Linked DNA regions of Homo sapiens. The protein of the gene in region 3 purifies or fractionates together with the protein of the main gene of each other region. This does not show direct contact. Each region holds a gene or a part of one and is shown on either strand. Other genes may lie near its edges.

Region 1 (3,531 bases), on a different chromosome or scaffold from region 3:
ATCTGGGCTCGCCTCGTGACTTGCTTTAATAGATAGACTAATCTGGAAGGGATGCAGTGTAACTTAGGAGGTTCGGCCATTAGAGATTTGCAGCTTCTCCATGCTTCATCTGGGAACACGCATTCTGAACCCCGACATTGTGCTGTAAGGAACAAGGAAGCTCAAGGAACTACAAGGAAAGCCCCATATGGAGAAAAACTATGGCCCTAGTGAACATCCTCAAATGCACTCCCAGCCCACAGCTCCTCACCAGCTATGTGAGGGAGAACACGATGCACCTTCTAGCCATGCTCTCCCCAGTGGAGTGGAACTGTCTAGCAAGTCACAGAATAACACAAAAAAGTTGTTGTTCTAAGCCTTTAAGTTTTGTGGTGTATGCTATACAAGAATAGATTGCTGAAACAATAAGAAAAGAAATGCCCTTACCTGTTTGGCTGGAAACAGACCTGGTCATAACCTGTGAGTTCACACAAATCCTTCTCAAGCTCTCGGAAAAGCTGCTGATATCCTTGAGCTTGATCCAGAGGCACAAAGGGGTGGATGTTTGCAAATTCTTTCCATGTGATAGGCTGAAAAGAAAGAAAACAAAAATGCATATATACATATTATAATAGCAATAGCAATAATAACTTTAATAATAATGACGATGATGAGAAAAGCTATGTGCCAGGCACTGTTCTAAGCGCTATACATATGTTAATTTATTTAAGTTCCACCACAACCTTATAAGGTAAGTACCGTTACTGTCTTCATTTAAAAGTGGGACATAGTTGTCCAAAAAGGGAACTTACACAAAAATACAATGTTTTGCTAACTTTTCAGGGAAGAAAAGCCCCCAAAACAGATTTCTTTCCATGAAACACAATGAGTTGCTTCAGGTATGGTTGGCATAAACTCTTATATAGCAATAGATTGTTCTCTTTCTTCACTAAGTGGAACAAGAAACAAACACAAAAGTAAATGGGAAGGCCAGGTACAGTGGTTCACACCTATAATTCCAGAACTCTGGGAGGCTGAGGTGGGAGGACTGCTTGAGGCCAGGAGTCTGAGATCAGACTGGCAAACACAGCAAGACCTTGACTCTATTTTTTAAAAAAATAGAGAGGGAAATATTCTTATCATGATATAAAATGATTTCTTTCGTCTGATATGATATGTCACTTCAGAATAAACGTAAGAAATGAAAGAAAGAAAAAAAAAGCTTCGCTAAAATGGATCCTGGCCTAGTAGAGATACTTGCCAACCACAACAGCGAGTTGCACAAATCTTCTGTTGACTTGAATCCCTATCTTTCTGATACAGGAATGATTTCTAGAAAGACGGCTTAAGGTTCGTAATTCTACCTGAGATTTAGAACTATAAACAATTTTTTTTAAAAAAGCTTTTAATATGACAGGTTTAAAAGGGGGTGGGGGTGGGGGAGGGATAGGATAGAAAGGCATAAATACCATATACATTTAATTAATTTTATTAAAAAATAATAAGTTTACCCATACATTTAAATGATGAAGTCGTGAGAAATACAGGGTTACTCCCAAGATTGGTGAATAGCAAGGTAAAGAATTATTAAAATAGTTCTTCAATCACAGAATCACAGTCCCAGTAGATTTCACTAGTTCTGGGCTTAGGTGGAAGCTAGAACACTGCCCCTTGCTGAGTATCCACTTACAGAAGTGAGCTACTTACTGCGAGTTCAGACGAACTGTTCAGTTTCATGGTGCAGGATCCCTTTAAGAAGAACATCCAAAATGTATCACATTAGTGATTTTCTATAGTCCATCAATCAACCCTCCATTCTCCCAGCATGGCCACCCCTTTGTTGCTCTTGGAGCATATTAGGTAGGACCAAGAGACGTGGGATTGGGGTAGCTTGGAAATGAGAAAAAAGGCCACAAATAACTACCAGTGGAATCATGCTGTGAACAAGGGAAATGTCTTTATTTTCCAGTTTCTTCATGTACCGGACAATGTTTGTTTCAGAGTGGTAGCTGTGAACACAAAACACAGAATTAGGGGCCCCAAAAGTAGATATGAGTCCATGCACATCCTCCTGACATATAAGACACACCGAAATCTACTTTCAAAATGCAGATCAATTTTGGCCACGGACAATATGTCAACTACACTCAGAGAGAAGGGCACAGACCCCCACAAACCTCAGAGGATGTCTTGGACAAGAAGCTGACTGTGGGTATGAGTTGAAGGTTGGGAAGAAGAGGATATAGGGCTCTTGGGAGTGAACTTCAGCCTGGCAATTATTCATCCCTGCTTCCTGACTGCCAAGGGAGCAGAGCCACCAGGAAACAAAGTGTGCTTTTCCCAAGTCAGGAACGGGATCGTTATGAGGATGAAATACTTGGGAGCCACGGCTGAGCCAGAATAACCAGGCCACAGCAGGCGAAATCAGCAGCAGCACTCTGCCTAACTCCCTAGCTGATTACCAAAGCACAAAACGCAGAAGTCACACAAGACACACAAACCTGTTGAACACTTGATGGGTGAGGAACGGGCTGGTCCTCTTGAACACAGACCCTGGAATACCTCTGCACTCCTCTCCCATGCTTTCAGCAACCAGTTCCTGAAGGAGAAACACAGAGATGATAGGGCCAGAACTGTGCCTGGAGCCACATGTGGACATCCAGGCTTCTGGGTGGCTGGGCCACAAAGCACTCAAAATGGATCAAATATATAATTTTACTTATTTATTTATTTATTTATTTATTTAATATTTTTGGAGGCAGGGTCTTTCTCTAGCACCCAGGCTAGAGTGCAGTGGCACGATCTCAACTCACTGTAGCCTTGGCCCTACTGGGCTCAATCCTCCTACCTCAGTCTCCTGAGTAGCTGGGGCTACAGGTGCATGCCACCACACCTGGCTGATTTTTGTATTTTTCTAGAGACGATGTTTCACCATGCCGCCCAGGCTGGTCACAAACTCCTGGGCTCAAGCAATCTGCCTGCCTTGGCTTCCCAAAGTGCTGGGATTACAGTCATGGGCCACTGAGCCTGGCCAAAGATGTAAATTTAAAAGCTAAAACTACTAAAACTTAGAAGAAAATAGGCCAGGCGCGGTGGCTCACACCTGTAATCCCAGCACTTTGGGAGGCCGAGGTGGGTGGATCACAAGGTCAGGAGATCGAGGCCATCCTGGCTCACATGGTGAAACCCCGTCTCTACTAAAAAATACAAAATTAGCCGGTCGTGTTGGCGGGTGCCTGTAGTCGCAGCTACTCGGGAGGCTGAGGCAGGAGAATGGCGTGAACCTGGGAGGTGGAGTTTGCAGTGAGCTGAGATCATGCCACTGCACGCCACCCTGGGCGACAGAGCAAGACTCCATCTTAAAAAAAAAAAAGAAAATATAGGGGCTAATCTGCATAACCTTGGATCTGGCAATGGTTTCTTAAATGTGACACCAAAGGAATAAACAATAAACATATATAAAAATTAGATAAATTAAATTTCTATAAAATTTGAAATGTGTGTGCATCAAAGAACATTATCAAGAAAGTTAAGAGACTGACTACCCACAGA
Region 2 (3,531 bases), on a different chromosome or scaffold from region 3:
GAGAATCGCTTGAACCTGGGAGGTGGAGGTTGCAGTGAGCTGAGATCACACCACTGCACTGCAGCTTGGACAACAAAGTGAGACTCTGTCTCGGAAAAAAAAAAAAAAAAAGTGGAAAAAAAAATCAAGGGCTGCTCAGAACCCTATTTAGTATTGACAGGAAAAGAAAAAATTTCTCTTCCAACATTATGAGGCACACAAGCCTCACAGGCACAGCGTAAATAACTACAAACTGTATTAACTGAGCAACTGTAATGGATTAATGATTTAAAATCTTTCTTCAAATCAAAGTAAATGTCCCTAGCTTTGTGGAGTAAACTGTTCTAAAGTAATAGTAAAATATTATAACCCCAAAGAGCCCTGTACACACACCTACACACACCATCGGAAATGAGACAAAACTTAAATTTGAAGATGAGAAAAACTTCAGCTGGGCTTTTCATCATTTCTTCAAACCGTAGCTCTCTTCAGCGTGAGAAATAACCATCTGTTTCTTATTTTCAGCTTTGAAATTTGATGACATAAACCAGAAAGCTGTGTTCTGATGGTGCTTTCTGAGTGGGCTTGGAGCCATAAGGACCCTCTCTCCTTTCAATGCACTGCCTGTTCATTTTGGTTTACTTAGGAGACAGAAGGGGAGTTGCAGGGGGGTCCCCAGATCCAGGTTTTAGTACTGATTCTCACATAAATTTATTGCATGTCCTTGAAGGGGCAGGCAAGGGTGTTTTGAGGGCTTACTAAATGCCAGGTGCTTTTTACATGTCTTTTTTTTTTCTTTTTTTCTTTTTTTTTTTTGAGACAAGGTCTTGCTTTGTCACCCAGATTGGAGTGCAGTGATGTGATCTTGGCTCACTACAGCCTCAATCTCCTGGGCTCAAGTGATCTTCCAGCCTCAGCCTCCTGAGTAGCTGGGACTATGGGCACACGCTACCACACCCAGCTAAATTTTTTTTTTTTTTTTTAGAGATGAGGTCTCACTATGTTGCCCAGGCTAGTCTCAAAGTCCTGGGCTCAAGCGATCCTCCTGCCTCAGCCTCCCAAAGTGCTGGGATTATAGGCGTGAGCCACCATGCCCAGCCTTACATATCGTCTTAATGAGCACTTATAACAACCAAAACGTAGTATGCTTATCCTCAATTCCTATGAGTAAACATTTATTGTGTGGTAATATTTTAGTGCATAACAATTGCAGGATCAAATTCATTCTTATTTCATGATCTGTGAGTTTATATATATGTGATGGTGGGGCTAGAAGTTCCTATATCATCACTTCACAAGTTAGGAACCCCAGTACTCCAAGAAAGGAACTAGGAGGCACCATGCCTGGCTAATTTTTGCATTTTTAGTAGAGATGGGGTTTCACCATGTTGGCCAGGCTGGTCTTGAACTCCTGACCTCAGGTGATCTGTCCGCCTCGGCCTCCCAAAGTGCTGGGATTCCAGGCATGAGCCACTGCACCTGACCTTAGCTATGTCTGCCCAGCACCTTCCCTCTTCTGCGTCCTCAGGGGAACCCCGCTTCTACTCTATTTAGTCCTGCTGGGGCTGCCACTGAGAGTGTTGCAGTCCTCTACCTCACAGGATGGATACTTGACCCAAAGAAGACAGTAAGAATCCCCCATCCTCTTGCAAGGAATGGGGCAACTCAAAAGAGTCCATATGAGGAATGAAGCCAAACTCAGACAATTAAGGTGAGAGACTGCAAGAGATCAAAGGGCCAGGGACACAGTAACATTTTCTTTTTAAAGCCAACTGATGTTCTTTTTCAAGTTCAGATACTTTAAGCTGATCACCTACAAGCAAACAAATCCTGACAGTTTTCTCAAGTAAATTATTATTATTATTATTTTTGAGATGGAGTCTTGCTCTGTTGCCCAAACTGGAGTACAATGGCGCGATCTTGGCTCACTGCAACTGCCACCTCCTGGATTCAAGTGATTCTCCTGCCTCAGCTTCTCGGGTAGCTGGGATTACAGCCGCCTGCCACCACGCCTGACTAATTTTTGTATTTTTAGTAGAGATGGGGTTTCACCGTGCTGGCCAGGCTGGTCTCGAACTCCTGACCTCAGGCAAACCGCCCACCTCAGCCTCCTAAAGTGCTGGGATTACAGGTGTGAGCCACTGGCACACATCCCCACCCACCCAATTTACTTTGTTTTCAAGAAACCAATTTACTTTGTTTTCTCAGGTAAATTATTTACTCTCTTCCTTTTTCTCTCTGTAGGCTAGTAAGACTCCAATCAAAGTTGATACATTGTATTTACATCTCCTCTACCCTAAGGTGGAAAAAGGATAAACGGAGTTCATGTGGTCTAAGGTCGGAGTTCACGTGGTCTAAGGTCGGAGTTCATGTGGTCTAAGGTCAGAGTTCATGTGGTCTAAGGTCGGAGTTCATGTGGTCTAAGGTCGCTGTACTGTCTGTCCAAAAGAGCAAGGATATTCACCACTTATAACGGAAATCTATCAACTTTGGTCAAATTGAAATTTCAAGCATAACCATTAAGAAAAAGTGTATAACATCCACATTAGTAGAAAAAAAAGGTGAATGATGAAAAATAGCTCCAAAGAAGGGAAGACAGCTGTAATGAAATGGAGAACTGTCAGGACAAACAGATTGAGAGCATAAAATAAGGCAGACCTAAACAAAAATACATCAGTGGTGCTATTAATGAAAATGGACTAAATGTTCTAATTAAAAGACAGAGAAAGTCAGGGTTTTCCCTGACTTTAAAACTTCCTTATAAGTTTTCCCAGGGTTTAAAAAACCAAAACCCAATTATATGCTATTCATAAGAGACTTACCTAAAACACAGTTACAGAAAAGATGCAACTAATGGAAAAAAAATACCTTGTGTAGATTTTTAAAAAGATTACACTATCAGGTAAAGTATAAGGCAAAAAAAAAAATTATTAGAAACAAAAAAGGCAGCTTCATAATGATAAAAAGTGAATTAAGAATTAAGAATTAAGAAGATAAAACAACTTTATATTTGTATATGCACCTGATAATACGGCCTTACAGATATAAAGCAAAAAAAAAAAAAAAAATTAAAAGATGAAGTAGACAAATTCATAATTATACTTGGATATTTAAACACATCCCTCTATAATTCATAGGAAAAAAAAAAACACCCAGTAAGGATAAAGAAGATTTGAACACCATTAACAAACTTGATCTAATGGCATTTCATTGGACATTGAATCCAATAACTGTAGAATACATTTTACTTTCAAACACACATGGAACATTTATAAAAACTGACCATAAACAGAGCTCTAACAGAAGTATCAAGAAATTTCAAAGGATTAAAATTATACAGCTTCGAGCACAGTGGCTCACACCTGTAGTCCTTCCAGCTACCTGGGGAGACTGAAGCAGGAGGATTGCTTGAGCCAGGAGTTCAAGGCTGCAGTTAGCTATGATCACACCACTGTACTCCAATGTGGGAGACAGTGAGACTGTCTCAAAAACAAACAAACCAACCAACCAAAAACAGAACAAGCTCACTGACCACAGTCATAATTAGTCATA
Region 3 (3,531 bases):
TTGCCATGTTGCCCAGCCTGGTCTCGAACTCCTGGACTCAAGCAATTAGCCTGCCTTGGCCTCCCAAAGGGCTGGGATTACAGGTGTGAGCCTTTGTGCCCAGCCAGGCTGCAACAATTTGAACAGGACAAAGCCCCAGCTGTCTCTACTGAGATACGCAGACCCCAAACAGGGAATTTCCAGGGGTACAGGAATTAGGAAAAGTTGAGTCCATGGCATACAGCTAGGCATACATCCAGGTGAGCTCACCATGTCTAGGGATCAGGAAAGGCTCTCGTGGGGTGTGATGTGTAAGCTGAGATCCAGAAGAAAGGGTAGAAACAAGCCACATAAAAAACGGGAGGGGAGAGGCACCCAGACAGGGGCTAACTTGTTAAATATGGCTCTGGGGGGACAGAGTAGTAGGTTCAAGAAAATTAAAATGGCTGGATGTGGTAGCTCATGCCTGTAATCCCAGCACTTTGGGAGGATTGCTTGGGCCCAGGTGTCGAGACGATAGTGAGAGACCCTGTCTCTACTACTACTACTAATAATTTTAAAAGCCTGGGCAATGTGGTGAAGCTGTTTTTAGAAAAATTAGCCAGGCATGGTGGCATGCACCTGTAGTCCCAGCTACTTGGGAGGCTGAGGTAGGAGCATTGCTTGAGCCCAGGAGGTCGAGGCTACAAGTGAGCTGTGATTGTGCAAGTGTACTCTAGCCTGGGTGAAAAAGTGAGACCCTGTCTCAAAAATAAAATAAAATAAAATAAATTAGCTGGTCATGGTGGTGCAGGCATGTATAGTCCCAGCTACTCAGGAGGCTGAGGTGGGAAGATCACTCAAGCCCAGGAAGTCGGGGCTGCAGTGAGTTATAATCATGCCACTGTACTCCAACCTGGGTGACAGAGTGAGACCCTGTCTCAAAAAAAAAAAAAAAAAAAAAGAGAAGAAAAAAGAAAAATTATTAGTAGGGCCTCTGAGTGTAAGAGACCAGGGGACAAGAGCTCAGGAGAAAACTGGAGGGGTGGGGAAAAAAGACAAAAAAGACAAAAAAAAAAAAAAAAAACCTGGAGAAGGGGGCAGGAGCAAACCCCAGGAAACCTTCACAATAACTCATGGACCTGGAAAAAGCAAGCCTCAAGGACTCCAAGTGGGGGCGTGGCATGATCAGAACTGCTTTAAACAATCGCTCCAGGAGAAAATCAAAGAAGGGGCAAGAGGGGACTAGATTTACACATGATTTACACACATATATGATTTATACACATATGCCACATATGCATAGACCGCCTCTCAAAGGTGCCTGCAAACTCAGTAAAGTGGCCGAGCAGGGTAGCTCACACCCGTAATCTCAGCACTTAGGGAGGCAGAGGCAGGAGGATCAATTGAGCCCAGGAGTTTGAGACCAGCCTGGGCAACACAGTGAGACCCCATTCCCCACAAAAAAGGAAAAGCAATCGGTAAAGTGAACACCTCAAAGGACGGGCCTAGAAGGCTGAGGGATGAGGAGCTGGGTGGGAGGGAAACTCGCTTTCATGGCATGCCCTTGTAGACTCTTCAGATTGTTTACCATGTGCAGGTATTTCCAGCTAGAAAGAGTTTAATTAAATGATCACTCCGGCTAACATATAGCAAGTGGACTACAGGAACAGGCAAGAGTATGTATAAGTTTCAGAAAACTATATGGAAAAGGCTTCATGACATGTCTCTAAGGGAAAGAAAACTAAAGTGCCACTGTACATTTTAATTTACACGCTCAGAAAAAAGGCTGGAGAATTACCCATTAGTCCTAAAGTGATGACAGGTGAGCAAGGGAATTACAAATGATTTTAACTGTCTTCTCTCTGATTTCCTGTTTTCCCCATGTTTTCTACATGAACATGTTATAACTTTAAAAATAAGGAAACGACATTTTTGGAAGGGGGAACGGGCCCACCTTATGCAGACTGGTCATGCCGTCGTCATCCACCACCCTGGGGTTGGACCCATGTGATAGCAGGAGCCGCGCGATTTCAGTGTGCCCGCAGTAGCTGGCTCGGTGCAGAGCAGTGGCACCCCCGTGGGTCTGGGCATCACACTTAGCTCCGCTTTCCAGCAGGAACTGGCACACAGCGTAGTGCCCATTGCGGCTGGCATAGTGCTGCAGGGAACAGAGACCGAGGTCAGATGGGAGAAGCCAGGCAGGTGACAAGGGTGGTATAGAGGTGAGAGCATGGCCTCCCTGCAGCGAGGGGCCTGGAATCATCTCAGGTGCCAACCCCAGCAGTCGTGTGACCTGGGCAAGCTTCTGCGTGACTAACCTGAGTTTGTTCAATTGAAAAATGGGGAAAATGATCATTCCTATCTCAAAGAATTGTTACGAAAATAAAACTAAATCATTGGCTGGGCGCAGTGGCTCATGCCTGTAATCCCAGCACTTTGGGAGGCCGAGGCAGGCGGATCACCTGAAGTCAGGAGTTCGAGACCAGCCTGGTCAACATGGTGAAAACCCATCTCTACTAAAAATACAAAAATTAGCTGGGTGTGGTGGCACATGCCTGTAGTCTCAGCTACTCAGGAGGCTGAGGCAGGAGAATCGCTTGAACCTGGGAGGCGGAGGTTGCAGTGAGCTGAGATCGCATCACTGCACTCCAGCCTGGGTAACAGAGCAAGACTTCATCTCAAAACAAAACAAAACCTAAATTATTGATGTAAAGGTCTCACACTAATTTAAAAAATCCAGGTTCATATGATGCTTAAAAAGAGAAATTTTGCTGGAAGAGAAGAAAGGGAGGGAGGAGGTAAAAGGTAACCATCAGTCCCCCTCCTCAGAGAGCAGGTGTCTCCTGAGTTAACGCTTCTGTCTCCTGACCCTGTGCTCCTCCCTAGCTCACCAGCGCAGTGTAGCCGGCCGAGTCGGGCTGACTTGGGTCCTCGGCCTTCTGGATTAAATGCTTCACTCGGCCCAGGTCTCCATTCAGGGCTGCCGACCAGATTCCTGCAGAAAGGCAACCAAAGGACTGAATGATGCTGAATGGGAGTTTCAGTGCTTGCTTTGCCTCTTGACCTCAGTTTTCTTGTCTATAAAGTGAAGAATATTCATTCCTTCAACAAATATCAACCGAGCACCTCCTCTGTGTCAAGGTTTGTTCTGAATGCTGGTGACTTAGCTGTGAACAAGACAGATGGGCACATCTCATCAGGACAGTAGGACTGGGCGGACACAGACATCTCCATCCCACTTCAAACACAGAAGTGCTGGATGAAGTAATGTTTAAAATGTTTGGATCTAGAGTGAAATTCAGGTCGGGCTGGGATTACAGGCGCCCACCACCATGCCCAGCAAATTTTTCTATTTTTAGTAGAGACAGGGTTTCACCATGTTGGTCAGGCTGGCCTTGAACTCCTGACCTCAAGTGATCCATTTGCCTTGGCCTCCCAAAGTGCTGGGATTACAGGCGTGAGCCACCGTGCCCAGCCAGAAACAACTTTTAAAAAATATAATGATGCCTCCAGAAGGCTGCCAAGGCAGTGTGACAATCTCCCACAGAAGAGGATCTCCCTGGTGAGCAC
Region 4 (3,531 bases), on a different chromosome or scaffold from region 3:
TGCGGTGGCTCACGTCTGTAATCCCAGCACTTTGGGAGGCCGAGGCGGGAGGATCACGAGGTCAGGAGATCGAGACCATCCTGGCTAACACGGTGAAACACCGTCTCTACTAAAAATACAAAAAAATTAGCCAGGCGTGGTGGCGGGCGCTTGTAGTCCCAGCTACTCGGGAGGCTGAGGCAGGAGAATGGCGTGAACCCGGGAGGCGGAGCTTGCAGTGAGCCGAGATCGCGCCACCGCACTTCAGCCTGGGCGACAGAGCGAGACTCCGTCTCAAAAATAAAATAAAATAAAATAAAAATAAAAATAAATAAAAATAAAAATACAAAAATTAGCCGGGCATGGTGGTGAGTGCCTGTAATCCCACCTACTTGGGAGACTGAGGCACAAGAATTGCTTGAACCCTGGAGGCGGAGGTTGCAGTGAGCCAAGATCGTGCCATTGCACTCCAGACTGGGCCACAGAGTGAGACTGCGTCTCAAAGAAAAAAAAAAATGTAGACGTTACATTCTTTTTTTTCTGTCCCTTTCATGGGAAAGACTGTTGCTTACTATTAAGGTTGCAATGAAAGAAATTCCAAAGCCATTTCTGATTTACTACCATCTTCCGATCATAAAATTTAAATGTTTAAATTTTACTACAATTGTATTACCCTAAAAATGAGTTTTTTACTAGTTTTAAGTGCCCTTTCAAAATTTTCATTAACATGTAAGCAGAATTTTACTACCACTGAGACATATAATTTGTTCTACTTCTTTTATTAACTTCCTTTAAAATAAAGTAGGGCCTCACTATGTTATCCAGGCTGGTCTTTAACTCCTGGGCTCAAGCAATCCTCCTGAGGATTCCCAAAGTGCTGGGATTACAGGTTTGAGCTACCTCAACTGGCCATATTAACATTTGTCCATAAACATTTTTCTATACAGCCACAGAGTCAACACATTAATCATCTCAATATCCAAGTATGATACCACAATTTACTTAATAATTTCTCTCTTTTTTTTTTTTTTTTTTTTTTTAGACGGAGTCTCACTCTGTCGCCCAGGCTGGAGTGCAGTGGTGCAATCTCAGCTCACTGCAAGCTCCGCCTCCCGGGTTCACGCCATTCTCCTGCCTCAGCCTCCCCAGTAGCTGGGACTACAGGCACCCACCACCACGCCCGGCTAATTTTTTGTATTTTTAGTAGAGACGTGGTTTCACCATGTTAGCCAGGATGGTCTCGATCTCCTGACCTCGAGATCCGCCCGCCTCGGCCTCCCAAAGTGCTGGAATTACAGACGTGAGCCACCGTGCCCAGCCTCTCTCTCTCTCTCTTTTCTATTGGTAGAGAAGGGATCTCTCTATGCTGCCCAGGTTGGTCTCAAACTGCTGGCCTCAAGAGATTCTCCCGTCTCAGCCTTCCAAAGTGCTAGGATTATAGGTGTGAACCACTGCACCCAGCCAATCATTTCTCTAATGCTGTTTATTTACAACTCCAAAGAAAACAGCTAAAAACAGCTTTGATTTTTAAAATATTACCTTATGAAGTATTTCCTTGGGAAAAATTCTTAAGATAGATAAATATGTTTAAGGTTCTACAAAGCCAGCCAGGAGCGGTGGCTCACGCCTGTAATCCCAACACTTTGGGAGGCCAAGGCAGGAGGATCATCTGAAGTCAGGAGTTCCAGAGCAGCCTTGCCACTATGGTGAAATCCCGTTGCAACTAAAAATACAAAAATTAGCCTGGCGAGGTGGAGTGCGTCTGTAATCCCAGCTAAATATGCACAGCAAAATTAAAAATTAAAATATAAAAATCAGCTGGGTGTGGTGGTGCACGCCTATAGGCCAATGTATTTGGGAGGCTTAGGTTGGAGGATGACCTGAGCCCAGGAGTTCGAGGCTGCAGTGAGCCCTGATCACACCACTGTACTCCAGCCTGGGCAACAGAGGGAGACCCTATTGTACAAAAAAATGAAAAAATGAAAAAAAGGGCAGGCACAGTGGCTCATGCCTGTAATCCCAGCACTTCGGGAGGCCAAGGCAGGCAGATCACCTGAGGTCAGGAGTTCGAGACCAGCCCGGCCAACATGGTGAAACCCCCACCTCTACTAAAAAAACAAAAATTAGCTGGGTATGCTGGCGGGTCCCTGTAATCCCAGCTACTTGGGAGGCTGAGGCAGGAGAATCACTTGAATCCGGGAAGTGGAGGTTGTAGTGAGCCGAGATCGTGCCATTGCACTCCAGCCTGGGTGACAAGAGCAAAACTCTGTCTCAGAAAAAAAGGTGGGGCCGGGTGCTGTAGCTCACGCCTGTAATCCTAACACTTTGGGAGGCAGAGGTGGGTGGATCAACTGAGGTTGGGAGTTTGAGACAAGCCTAACCAATATGATGAAACCCCATCTCTAATAAAAATACAAAAATTAGCCAGGCTATGGTGGCACACGCGTATAATCCCAGCTACTCAGAGGCTGAGGTGGGAGAATCACTTGAACCCGGGAGGTAGAGCTTGCAGTGAGCCAAGATCGTGTCAGTGCACTACAGCCTGGGTGACAGAGGGAGACCCTGTCTCAAAAAAAAAAAAAAAGGGAAAAAAAAAAAGACAAGAGTGGCCGGGGGCGGTGGCTCACGCCTGTAATCCCAGCAGTTTGAGAGGCTGAGGCAGGTGGATCATTTGAGGTCAGAAGTTCAAGACCAGCCTGACCAACATGGAGAAACCCCATCTCTACTAAAAATACAAAATTAGTCAGGTATGGTGGCGCATGCCTGTAATCCCAGCTACTGAGGAGGCTGAGGTGGCAGAATTGCTTGAAGCCAGGAGGCGGAGGTTGCGGTGAGCCAAGATCATGCAATTGCACTCTAGCCTGGGCAGCAAGAGCAACCACTCTGTCTCAAAAAAAAAAAAAAAAAAAAAAAAAAAAAAAAAAGCCAGGCGTGATAGCTCACACCTGTAATCCCAGCACTTTGGGAAGCTGAGGCGGGCGGATCATGAGGTCAGGAGTTCAAGACCAACCTGACCAACATGGTGAAACCCCATTTCTACTAAAAATACAAAAAAGAGCTGGGCGTGGTGGCGTGCGCCTGTAATCCCAGCTACTCAGGAGACTGAGGCAGGAGAATCGCTTGAACCCGGGAGGCGGAGGTTGCAGTGAGCCGACATCACACAATTGCACTCCAGCCTGAGCGACAGAGCAAGACTCCATCTCAAAAAAAAAAAAAAGAAAAGACAAGGAGGAAAAAAGCATAAAAATATGAAGTGTAGAAGATGGTGCAAAAACCCCAAATTCATTCAATCAACAATTATATTATGGAGTGTCTGCTAAAAGCCAGATACTATTTTAGGCAATTGGAATAAAACAGTAATGGATTTTACAGGGAAGTACAATAAGAGATCTTCCCAAAAAAAAAAAAAAAATGCCGGGTGCAGTGGCTCACGCCTGTAATCCCAGCACTTTGGGAGGCTGAGGCGGGTGAATCACAAGGTCAGCAGTTCAAGACCAACCTGGCCAAGATGGTGAAACCCCATCTCTACTAAAAATACAAAAATTAGCCAGG

The links.
Region 1: the proteins of ANKRD39 (region 3) and GLDC purify together in Homo sapiens (affinity purification with mass spectrometry; one large-scale study listed by BioGRID and IntAct). This does not show direct contact.
Region 2: the proteins of ANKRD39 (region 3) and FBXO10 purify together in Homo sapiens (affinity purification with mass spectrometry; one large-scale study listed by BioGRID and IntAct). This does not show direct contact.
Region 4: the proteins of ANKRD39 (region 3) and TBCE purify together in Homo sapiens (affinity purification with mass spectrometry; one large-scale study listed by BioGRID and IntAct). This does not show direct contact.

What each region holds. Positions count from the first base shown.
Region 1 is NC_000009.12:6,586,715-6,590,245, forward strand, and holds part of GLDC (glycine dehydrogenase (decarboxylating), mitochondrial precursor), read right to left. Parts: intron 2,579-3,531; coding exon 2,481-2,578; intron 1,989-2,480; coding exon 1,904-1,988; intron 1,729-1,903; coding exon 1,687-1,728; intron 570-1,686; coding exon 427-569; intron 1-426. UniProt on the Homo sapiens protein: The glycine cleavage system catalyzes the degradation of glycine.
Region 2 is NC_000009.12:37,566,366-37,569,896, forward strand, and holds part of FBXO10 (F-box only protein 10), read right to left. Parts: intron 1-3,531. UniProt on the Homo sapiens protein: Substrate-recognition component of the SCF (SKP1-CUL1-F-box protein)-type E3 ubiquitin ligase complex. Mediates the ubiquitination and degradation of BCL2, an antiapoptotic protein, thereby playing a role in apoptosis by controlling the stability of BCL2.
Region 3 is NC_000002.12:96,851,486-96,855,016, forward strand, and holds part of ANKRD39 (ankyrin repeat domain-containing protein 39), read right to left. Parts: intron 2,957-3,531; coding exon 2,853-2,956; intron 2,120-2,852; coding exon 1,916-2,119; intron 1-1,915.
Region 4 is NC_000001.11:235,370,411-235,373,941, reverse strand, and holds part of TBCE (tubulin-specific chaperone E), read right to left. Parts: intron 1-3,531. UniProt on the Homo sapiens protein: Tubulin-folding protein; involved in the second step of the tubulin folding pathway and in the regulation of tubulin heterodimer dissociation.